Linked DNA regions of Homo sapiens: all the other regions are linked to region 3. Evidence: fine-mapped expression QTL. A gene starts in region 3. Each other region holds a variant in brackets. All regions are shown on one strand. Distances are from middle to middle. Region 1 overlaps RALB (RAS like proto-oncogene B). Region 2 has its middle 120 kb from the start of LINC01101. Region 3 holds the start of INHBB (inhibin subunit beta B). Region 4 overlaps RALB (RAS like proto-oncogene B).

What was found. PIP is the estimated chance that this variant, and not a neighbour inherited with it, causes the effect.
Region 1: its variant is fine-mapped to the expression of INHBB in whole blood (TOPMed, PIP 0.92).
Region 2: its variant is fine-mapped to the expression of INHBB in subcutaneous fat (GTEx, PIP above 0.99). The same link has a PIP of 0.9 or more in breast, ileum, lung and skeletal muscle.
Region 4: its variant is fine-mapped to the expression of INHBB in whole blood (INTERVAL, PIP 0.92).

Annotation. Positions count from the first base shown.
Region 1 is chr2:120,254,175-120,256,858 of GRCh38, forward strand. The region is part of intron 1 of RALB (RAS like proto-oncogene B); the gene reads left to right. Among named protein-coding and RNA genes, the nearest start is that of RALB, 2.7 kb to the left of the region's middle. The variant G/A (reference allele first, on the strand shown) is at 1,419.
Region 2 is chr2:120,588,661-120,591,344 of GRCh38, forward strand. No RefSeq gene overlaps it. Among named protein-coding and RNA genes, the nearest start is that of LINC01101, 120 kb to the left of the region's middle. RefSeq lists an enhancer at 1-357. The variant G/C (reference allele first, on the strand shown) is at 1,376.
Region 3 is chr2:120,344,572-120,347,255 of GRCh38, forward strand. INHBB (inhibin subunit beta B) reads left to right here and starts at 1,565. Exons shown (of 2, transcript NM_002193.4): 1 at 1,565-2,065. The coding sequence starts at 1,618. It overlaps LOC105373989 (putative cuticle collagen 91), which reads left to right. Exons shown (of 3, transcript XM_047446882.1): 3 at 316-1,422. The coding sequence ends at 1,343.
Region 4 is chr2:120,280,157-120,282,840 of GRCh38, forward strand. The region is part of intron 2 of RALB (RAS like proto-oncogene B); the gene reads left to right. Among named protein-coding and RNA genes, the nearest start is that of RALB, 29 kb to the left of the region's middle. The variant T/G (reference allele first, on the strand shown) is at 1,576.

The DNA.
Region 1 (2,684 bases), 90 kb before region 3:
TGTTGTGATGTGGAGCACGATCTTTCCCCCTCTGAGCTCCAGAGTCAGCAACTGTAGAAGGGTGATGATAGTTATCCTAATTGTTAGGATTAAACGAAATAGGAGCGGGGGAGAAGAAGGCCAGGGAGACATATCCTTTGTGCGTGGCTTTAGTTGTCAGCCGGTCTGCTTTATTCTGACCACATCTGGGGCTTTCCTTCCTTGCCCATTCACATTGCTTCCCATTGGAAACAGCACTCTTATCGGAGATCTCAGCCAGATTTCCCTCTGCCCGAGGAATAGAACATTTTCCCAGGATTGTGTGTGGAAAATAGTGTAAGTTATTAGATATCTTTTGGGAACTTGGGACCTAGACCATAAGGATAAACAGGATTTAGAGTCTTCCACGGCATATGAAGAGATTTTGGTAGAAGATGAGGGTAGAAAAGTTCTAAATTCTTGCCTTGACTGAAGATGGCTTGAGATTCCATGAAAAATTTTAAGCCTGAGAATTGAGATAATCCTTTTTTTGTTTGTTTTTGGGGGCAGAGTCTTGCGCTATTTCCCAGGCTGGAGTGGAGTGGTGTGATCACCGCTCACTGCAGCCCCCACCTCCCAGGCTCAGGTGAGTCTCCCACCTCAGCCTCCCGAGTAGCTTGGTACAGTCTTGCACCACCATGCCAAGCTAATTTTTGTATTTTTTGTAGAGATGGGGTTTCACCATGTTGCCCAGGCTGGTCTCGAACTGCTGGGCTCAAGCCATCCTACCACCTTGGCCTCTCAAAGTGCTGGGGATCACAGGTGTGAGCCACCCCGTCTGGCAGGGATAATTCTTTCTTCCAAATCACGTAATCCTACTATGCCTCTTTGCATTTAGTTGCTAAATTCTTACCCCCCTCATGTAACTTATGGAAGTTAGAAACATCATTAGAGACCTTTCTTGAAAGCTAAATTTGGAGACAATGTAAGACTAGAGTGCGAAGAGATCTAGGTGAACTCTGTAGTTTTCCAGTGTAACTTGTCTCCAGATGGTATACAGGAGTCCCACTTTTCCTTGGCTCCAGTTACTGCTAAACAGCCCCTGCTCTAGACATGCAAGACGCTTGGTTTTTTTTTCGTTTTGTTTTTTTAAATGAATGTATGTTCTGAATGTTATCGCAAAGAGAGCCGAGCACAGAGGAAAAGGAACTCTTCCTTCATCACATGGCGGAGTAGTTAAGGAGGAGAAAAACTAACAGTTACTGAGCATCAGCTGTCTGCTTGGCACAGACCACTGATCCAAGCCATACCAGTTAAATATGTGGCCTTGGAGATTTGACCATGGGCTGTCTCCTTTAGCTCCTCAGTTCTTTTGGTACCTAGGAATATAAATATTGGTGTATGTGTACATATATTCTTAGATATTCCAAAAAGCAGAGGGGCCAGTAGGCAAGAGGGTT[G/A]ATGAGTCTTGGATAGGTGACAGTGGAAAGAAAGATGAAGAGGATGTGGAAGTGAGTGTCAAAGAGGGACGGTATATGTGCTTACTAGAAGCAATTGCAAAATTCTAGCCAGGTCTCAATTTCAAGTTTGTCACTTTAAAAAAAGTAGCTGCTTATAATTTTCCTTAGTGTTCTCCTGGCTGTTTTTGTTTTTGGTGATGGTGGCTAGTTGTTTTTTAGTTGAAATCTAAATGCAGAAAAGAAAAATGCCATTAATTGATAATTACCAATATATTGTTTTCATTGTTGCTTTTGTCAGTGCTTTGTGGGCATTTTTTATATATAGCATTGTTCCAAGCTATACGGCATGAGATGAAGGAAATATAGTAGTTTGGTCCTGCGTGCCTGGCTGCCTGTAAAGTTTGCCTACCTTTTGAATGAGTTTTCTGTTGCTGCATAACAAATTTCCCCAAACTTAGCAGCTTAAAACAACAGACATTTATGATCTCACACAGTTTCTGAAGTTGAAATCTGGGGACAGCTTGGCTGGGTGCTTCTGGCTCATGGTCTCTCCTGAGGTTGCAGTCATCTGAAGCTCGACTGGGACCAGAGGATCTGTTTCCAAAATGGCACGTTCACATGGCTGTTGGCTGGAGGCCTCAGTTCTACACCATGTGGGCCTATGCACAGGGCTTTTCACAACATAGCTTTTCTCCCCAGAGCAAGTGATCTGACGGGGGTGGGGAGAGAGGGAGAGAATGAATATGATAATGATCAAGATGGAAGCAGCAGTATATTCGTGGCTGATATGGTTTGGCTGTGTCCCTACCCAAATCTCACCTTGAATTGTAATCCCCATAATCCCCATACGTTGTGGGAGGGACTCGGTGGGAGGTAATTGAATCATGAGGGCAGTTTCTCCCATACTGTTCTCCTGATAGTGAGTTCTCACGTGATCTGATGGTTTTACAAGCGTCTGGCATTTCCCCTGCTGGCACTCATTCTCTCTCCTGCTGCCCTGTGAAGTGGTTCCTTCTGCCATGATTGTAAGTTTCCTGAGGCCTCCCCAGCCCTGCGGAACTGTGAGTCAATTAAACCCCTTTCCTTTATAAATTACCCAGTCTCGGATATTTCTTCATAGCAGCATGAGAACAGACTAATCCAGTGTCTAATCTTGGAGATGGCATACCATCCCTTCTACCAGCATTCAGACCAGACCTGGCACAATGTGGGAAAGGACTACAAGAGGGGAGGTCAGGGCACATCAGTATTCTTGGAGGCTAGCCA
Region 2 (2,684 bases), 240 kb after region 3:
AGGGGCAGGTCACATACTGGACACACTCCCATCAGCTGGACACCCACCCCAATCGATACCCACTACGCAAGTAGACCCCAAACCTGGGCAGCAGGCAAAGTCAAGAGCAGTCCAGGGAGCCAGGGTCCAAAAGCTGGAGACATTTCTGAAGGTTGTCAATCTGTGAGGACAGACATGAGCCTGGAACTGAAGATTTGGATAACCCACGTGCACTGGGGCCAAGAGATAAGGGGCATCAGGTGTCCAGACGTGATGGAGGGATGGGAGGGAGAGGTAGGTGAACAGGGAGTGCTCAGAGCTAGGTGAGATATTTTAGCAAAATCACCAAACAGGAAAAGTTGAAGATGCTGGTCCCGTGCAGCTGCTTCTGTAGGAGTTCATGGGGACAGGGGTTACCAGAGGAGGGTTTGCAAATTTTTCCTATAGGATGCCCTCTCTATGGTGATGTACTTGGTCGTCAGTCAACTGCCTGGACAGCCCTGACTTTTCCCCTCTCTCCCCACCCTTGCCATGCGCTCATCAAGCCTGCCCATTCTTGCTCCTTAATGCCTCTCTCCCCAATCCCTTCCTTTCCATTTCTGTGGTTCTCTTTTGGTGAAGACTATCAATCATCTTTGGATCATTGCAGCGGCTTCCGCCCTGATCATGCTACTCTCACTCTTGCCTTCAATTCACACTCCAGATAGGGCACCACAGGAATCTTCCAAACACGTAAATCTAAGTTACCACCCTGGTTAAAACCTTCTATAATTAACACAACAACACAACCTGATTAAAAAATGGGGCAAAGGACTTAGGCATTTCTCCAAAGAAGATATACAAATGGCCAGCAAGCACGTGAAAAGACACCCATCACCCATCTTTAGGGAAACGCAAATCAAAACCACAATGAGATACCATTTCACACCCATTAAGATGGCTATTGCACAAATATGGTCCATTGCATAAATATATCTCTTCTCCTGTTGATGAACGTCTGGGCTCTTTCCAGTTTGGAGCTATTATGAATAAAGCTGCTGTATATTGGGAGACAATTCCCCATGAGTCTCTCGCATTTCTACACATCTTATGAGTAAGGCACTGATTGACCTATCTTTTCATGGGTGTTTGTATTGCAGACAGCTTTGGAAGATCAAGCGTCTCCCTCTGGAGCAAAGGGCAAGCACGCTTGCTTCCCATTGTAAAAGATCCAGGTTCCCTAAGCTCAGGGTTCCTCTCCTGTAATGCAATTCACTGCAAGTACAGGATCCATCTGGGCCCACTCACATTGTTCTGTGGGACTTGGGGCAAAAGGAACTGACGCAAATATGCTGATACACATGCTGTTTGCTGTGCTGTGAGGAATAACATCCTTTGTCTCTGACTCATGGTTCTG[G/C]CATCTTCTGCCAGCCTCTCAAGAGCCTAACTCATTACCTTTCAAGTTGAGTAAAATTTCAGACCCTTTATAGTTCTTGACATTAAGTGTTCTTATACAAGTGTTTCTGGGAACATATATTTTCCCACTTCTTCTTTGTCCTTCTCATCCTGCTGCCTGGAGTGCGGACCTGATGGCTAGAGCCCTGGTTACCATCTTGACCCATGAGGACCAGAGACGTAGTGGGTAGAAGGAGCATGGGTGTCCAAGGCTTTTGCAGGTCAGAGTGATCATATTGGCCCTGGAATTTTACAGGAGGGAAAATGCCTTGCTTACACCACTGTACCGTGGTGTTTTCCAACCCTATCTAATGCAACCCATGTCGTGGCTCATCCTGTCTGGGATGTTTTCCCGCCCTCCCTTCCTTTGTTCACTAATGTATATCATACTAACCTCAAGAATGACTCTTCATATTTCTAGTTCTTCCCACAATGATTGCTTCCTGTATCCTAGGGCCTTGTACAGTGTCTGGCACAGTAGTAGGTGCTCAGGAGGTAGGAGTTGATGAGGTGAACAAATACATAAAAGAAAAACGCAGGTTGGCAGAGATGATGGGAAAGCGGCATTCTCACTCAGAGGAACAGGTAGAGCATTAGGTTGTCGGGGAGGGAGCCCGAGCTATAGTCCTGTACCGGATGACACCACCGCAGCTCTTTCCTCTCTGGGCTCAGTTCTCTGGCTCTGCAGTGTGGGCTTTGGCTAGGATGATGAATGCCCATGGTCCCCACTGATTCTCAAGCCCTGTGCAAACTCTGAAATTTGAATACTGCTTTCCTGGCAATGCCTCCCTGCTTTTCTCTCCTGTAACTTATATTTGACCAGTGGCATCACTTGATGGCTGAGAAAGGTCCTACTCCTTGCTGGGCCCAGGACTGCTCTGCAACCCAAGCTTGGGGAGACATGGGTGCCTGGGCAGCTTAGCAGCTGGGGAGACTGACAGCTTTAGTGAGCCCAGCGGGTGGCATCAAGTTTCTGGGTGCCTGGTCACCATGTTAATCTGCTCTTGGTGCCACTAATACCAATTTGTGAGCAGACAGCCAGGATCAGACAGGCCAGCTGTCAGGCAACTGTGGACAGCTCAGTGTGTGGTTTGATTTTATGGCTTAGGGCTGGAATTATAAATTAATTAGCAAATTTAAGTTTCTGGAGCTGCTTCAGATAGGTAGCTCCCAGGGGCCAGGTGACACTAGTTTGACCCAGTGACCCCAGCCCAGGTCCTGCCACCCACCATTACCACCACCAAGGGAGTCAGAAAGAGTCCATCTTGTTT
Region 3 (2,684 bases):
CGCGGCGGCGGGGAGGCGGGAGTGGGCCGGGAGGAGCGCCTGGGTCCAGCGCCTGGAACCCGTCGGTGCCGCCGGCCGCCCAGCTGGGCAAGGGTCCGGGGCGCCCACGTGGTGGGAAAGTTTCGAGGTAGCAAAAGTAGCCCGGCATTGCGGGGGGTGGGAGGGGAGAGGAGGGGAGGGGAGAGGGCCGGCTCGCCCCTCCTTCTCGGGAAGGCAGAAAGGAAAAAAGCGGTGGGAAGCAGGGGTGAGCGCGGGGAGCGGGCAGCCCCAACCTGAACAGATTCCGCTTTCTCCTCCTCCCCCCACCCCGGGAAGCTCGAGCGGGGAGGTACGGACCGTCTCCTCTCGCACGGGCAGGACGACACCCTCCCTCCCCCCCTTTTTTCTGCCAACGTCTATCTCAACGCGCGCGCACATACGGAGATTGTGCGGCTTTTTTCCCCCTTGGGAGAAAAAACGGGGAGAGTAAAAGAAGAGAGACCAAAGAGAAGAACTCCTCCTCGGCGAGCTCCGCACTCCGTGCCGCGGCCCGGCGCGGGGACGCCGCCGCCGCCCGCCCGCTCTCTCCCGGCCCTGCGGCGGGTGCCAGTACGAGCGCGAGCGAGGGCACTGCACCCGGGGACGCTGCGAGACTTTTCGGCGCTCGAGCCGACCTCGCCGCCGCCGCGGCAGGCAGAAGAGACAGGAGCGAGAAGGGCCCTGCCTCCCCCTCGCCTTCCTCGCCCGGCGCCCCGCGCCCGGCCGGGCCGCGCAGGCAGGCGGAGGGAAGGAGGGAGGCTGCGAGGAGGCGGGCGGAGCAGAGGCCCCGGCGAAGCGCGCTGCGGCCGCCCGCCCGTGGATGCGGCGCCCAGGGATCCTGGAGACAACTTTGCCGTGTGACGCGCCGGGAGGACTGCAGGGCCCGCGGCCGAGGGCTCGGCGCCGCCTGTGAGCGGGCCCGCGCGGCCGGCTCTCCCGGGCACCAAGCTTGCTCCGCGCCACTGCCCGCCGGCCCGCGGCGAGGACGACCTGCCCGTCTCCGCCGCCGGCGGCCCTTCCTGGCGCGAGGCAGTGAGGGCGAGGCGCTCAGGTGCGAGCGCGGGGCCCCGCCGCAGCGCCCGCCGCAGCGCCGCGCCAAGCCGCGCCCGGCTCCGCTCCGGGGGGCTCCAGCGCCTTCGCTTCCGTCTCAGCCAAGTTGCGTGGACCCGCTCTTTCGCCACCTTCCCCAGCCGCCGGCCGAACCGCCGCTCCCACTGACGCTGCTTTCGCTTCACCCGAACCGGGGCTGCGGGGCCCCCGACGCGGAAAGGATGGGGAGAAGGCTGCAGATGCCGAGGCGCCCCGAGACGCCCGTGCGGCAGTGACCCGCGACCTCCGCCCCGCCCGGCGCGCCCCTCGGGCCCCCGGGGCCCTCGGCGCCCCTTCCCTGCCGCGCGGGAACCCCCGAGGCCCGGCCGGCCCCCTCCCCCTGCGAGCCGGCGGCAGCCCTCCCGGCGGGCGGGCGGGCGGAGGCCCGGGCGGGCGCGGGCGCGGGCGGGGGCGGGGCGGGGCGGCGCGCCCGGAGCCCGGAGCCCGGCCCTGCGCTCGGCTCGACTCGGCTCGCCTCGCGGCGGGCGCCCTCGTCGCCAGCGGCGCACCATGGACGGGCTGCCCGGTCGGGCGCTGGGGGCCGCCTGCCTTCTGCTGCTGGCGGCCGGCTGGCTGGGGCCTGAGGCCTGGGGCTCACCCACGCCCCCGCCGACGCCTGCCGCGCCGCCGCCACCCCCGCCACCCGGATCCCCGGGTGGCTCGCAGGACACCTGTACGTCGTGCGGCGGCTTCCGGCGGCCAGAGGAGCTCGGCCGAGTGGACGGCGACTTCCTGGAGGCGGTGAAGCGGCACATCTTGAGCCGCCTGCAGATGCGGGGCCGGCCCAACATCACGCACGCCGTGCCTAAGGCCGCCATGGTCACGGCCCTGCGCAAGCTGCACGCGGGCAAGGTGCGCGAGGACGGCCGCGTGGAGATCCCGCACCTCGACGGCCACGCCAGCCCGGGCGCCGACGGCCAGGAGCGCGTTTCCGAAATCATCAGCTTCGCCGAGACAGGTGGGTCCGGCCCTCCGGCTGTCTGCCGCGGTCCCCGCTCGCTCCCGCTCTCCCTCTCCTTGCTAGCTCCGGCTGCCACCGCCGCCACCGCAGCCCGCGCGCCCTGGGGCAGCCTGGACTCCCGGCAGAGCTCCTTCGGCCGTGGCCCTGCGCGCTCCGCCCGGGTTGCAGTCCTCTTCCCCCAGGCCGCAGACCCTTGCCTGCTGCCTCAACCCCCCGCCGCCGATCGCCTGGCCCTCCACCCCTGCTCTCCGGAATCGGGCCCCAGCGCCTCTGGGCGCGCGTCCCCCTCCCGGCAGATGCGCGCGGCCCTGGCTCTGCGGGCACTTGCTTGGTGATTGCTTAATGTTTTTGTTTCCCACGATCGGAGTGTAGGCTTAGCAGTGTGGATGGAGATGTGTGTGCTTGTTGATATACGTGGGCCGGAGGAGAGAGAGAGTGTGTGTGTATCTGTGTGTGTGTCTGTGTGTGTGTGTGCCTGCGTGAGAGGCCCCTGGGGCCGCTTCCATCACCGGCGGCGTGGGCTTGCCAGGATTGCTGAAGCCTCGCTGGGGAGAGCTAGGCAACCTCTCTTCCGATTGTGTGGGCACCGGAATCGGGCGGAAGGCAGGCTTCTCAA
Region 4 (2,684 bases), 64 kb before region 3:
CTTACAGCTTGTACAGTGAAGCTCAATAGAGGTTTCCTAAATTTGGCAGTAATCCCAAAACTTTCATTACTAGAAATGCCATGTAGTCACATGCACATGTATGTTTATTGCAGCACTATTTACAATAGCAAAGACATGGAACCAACCCAAATGCCCATCAAAGATAGACTGGATAAAGAAAATGTGGCACATATACACCATGGAATACTATGCAGCCATAAAAAAGAATGAGTTCATGTCCTTTGCAGGGACATCGATGAAGCTGGAAACCATCACTCTCAGCAAACACAGGAACAGAAAACCAGACACCACATATTCTCACTCATAAGTGGGAGTTGAACAATGAGAACGCATGGACACAGGGAGGGGAACATCACATGCTGGGGCCTTTTGGGGGGCGGGGGGCAAGGGGAGGGAGAGCATTAGGACAAATACCTAATGCATGTGGGGCTTAAAACCTAGATGATGGGTCGATAGGTGCAGCAAACCACCATGGCACATGTATACCTACATAACCTGCATGTTCTGCACATGTATCCCAGAACTTAAAGTAAAAAGAAAAAAAAAAAAACTCATGTAGTTGTGAAGCTGAAAGAACCTCTTCTAAGCTGTCAGAACAAAAGACATTTTCATTAACCATGCTAAAGGAAAGACTAAATTATTTTTTATTCTCTATAGGAATGTTTCAAAATCATTGGCATATGACAAGAAAAAGTATACAGCAAACAAAAAAGTAGAAGGTATTCTAGAGGTATGTCAGGCAGTTTAATTAATAAAAATATTGTTATTTTGCTGGATTTTGTGATGTCAGTGCTGTTTGTATTAGTTTTTTTTATTACTGTATAATAATCACAAAGTTAGCAGGTTAAAACAACATACATTTGTCATTCCATAGTTTCCATGGGTCCAGAATTGGAGCCTCAGCTGAGTCCTCTGCTCAGAGTCCCACAAGACTCCACTCAAGGTGTCAGCTGGGGCTGTGACCTCTTCTGAGGCGTGGGGGTCCTCTTCCAGGCTCCCTAATTGTTGGTAGAATTTAGTTCCTTGTGGGTGTAGGACACAGGTGCTCGGATTCTACAAGTTGCCCGCAGGCCCCTGCCATGTGCCGTCTCCATAGGCAGCTCATACCACAGTGGCTTGCTTCTCCAAGGCCGGCAGGACAGTCTCCAGCCAGCCTAGACGGTCTTATAAAATGAAATGGAAACATGGGGGTATTCCCTTCGCCTCACTGAGAGTCACCCGGGGGTGAGATCGCTGGAGTACTCATCTTTAAAACTTTATAATGGATTATGATTTCTCATTCAATGTCAACATTTACTTTAATGTCCAGTATTACGTGTGTAATTTTGTATCTTAAGGAAGGGCCCCCATAATGAATAAGCTTCAAACCCAAACCTGGTTATCCTCCTGGGTCATGCTCCCCATGTCTTATAATGAGACACTTTTGTGTTTGGTACCTGCTTTTCTTTATCTTATTCTGGGGGGTCAAACTGGATAAATCTAATGTAATCTGCTGAATTTCCCCAAAACGTTTTTGCATAAGAGAAGCAGGTTGGGAGATCTGCATCTGCTTTG[T/G]AGGTCTTTTGTTTGTTTTTGCTCAAAAACTTATAATTTGCTTACGAAAGCTTTTTTCTCCCCTATAACAGAGGTTGGGGAAGAGAGGGGGTGGTGAGTAGGGGAATTAGGATTAGGGAGATAGGATTAGGGAAGTAGTTGTTAACAGAGGTGAGAGAGGGGGATTTTGCTTCCCCAGGGAATATTCGTAAGTGCCTGGAGACATTTTTGGCCATCACAGCTTGGGGGAAGATGCTACCAGCATCTAGTGCGTGGAGGCCAAGGACGCACTCAGCATCCTACATCACACAGGACAGCCCCGAACAAAGTATTAGCCAGCACAAAATATCCACAATGCCACTGTTGAGAAACCTGCATTAGAGGCAGAGCCGTGGCAGATCCAAGGAGAGAAGATTCCCCTACAGTGTTAGTGATTGAGAGGCCCTGGGTTGCCAGTTCCAAGAGCAAGTTCAGATACAGAGCTGGGGCCGGGCGCGGTGGCTCACGCCTGTAATCTCAGCACTTTGGGAGGCCGAGGCGGGCAGATCACCTGAGGTCAGGAGTTCAAGACCAGCCTGACCAACATGGAGAAAACCCATCTCTACTAAAATTACAAAATTAGCCTGGTGTGGTGGTGCATACCTGTAATCCCAGCTACTTGGGAGGCTGAGGCAGGAGAATCGCTTGAACCTGGGAGATGGAGGTTGCAGTGAGCCAAGATCGCACCATTGCATTCCAGCCTGGGGAACAAGAGCGAAACTCCATCTCAAAAAAAAAAAGATAACAGAGCTAGCACTGCTGAGGAGACTAGGAGAGCCTGGTCTGGAGGTTTCTGGGTGTGTGTGTGTTGGGGAGGGGGGCGGGGGTGGGTAAGAGGAGGGGGCAGATGCATGCAGAAGATTCGAGAGTTTTTTCTCTTCTTTCTGTTCTCTTCACAGAGACCAGGGAAAGCTGTGCCTGGCCTTAGTCTGTTTTTCTCATGGGCTAACATACTTGAGAACTGGAAAGTGGCAGTTATTGAAGAAATTGTAAAATAAAATTGGGGCAAGGAAGGAATAGAAATGAAGTGATGTATGTTTGGGGGAGGAGTTCTAATCGATTTTCTAAAACGGTGCTAATAGAAACTTCCA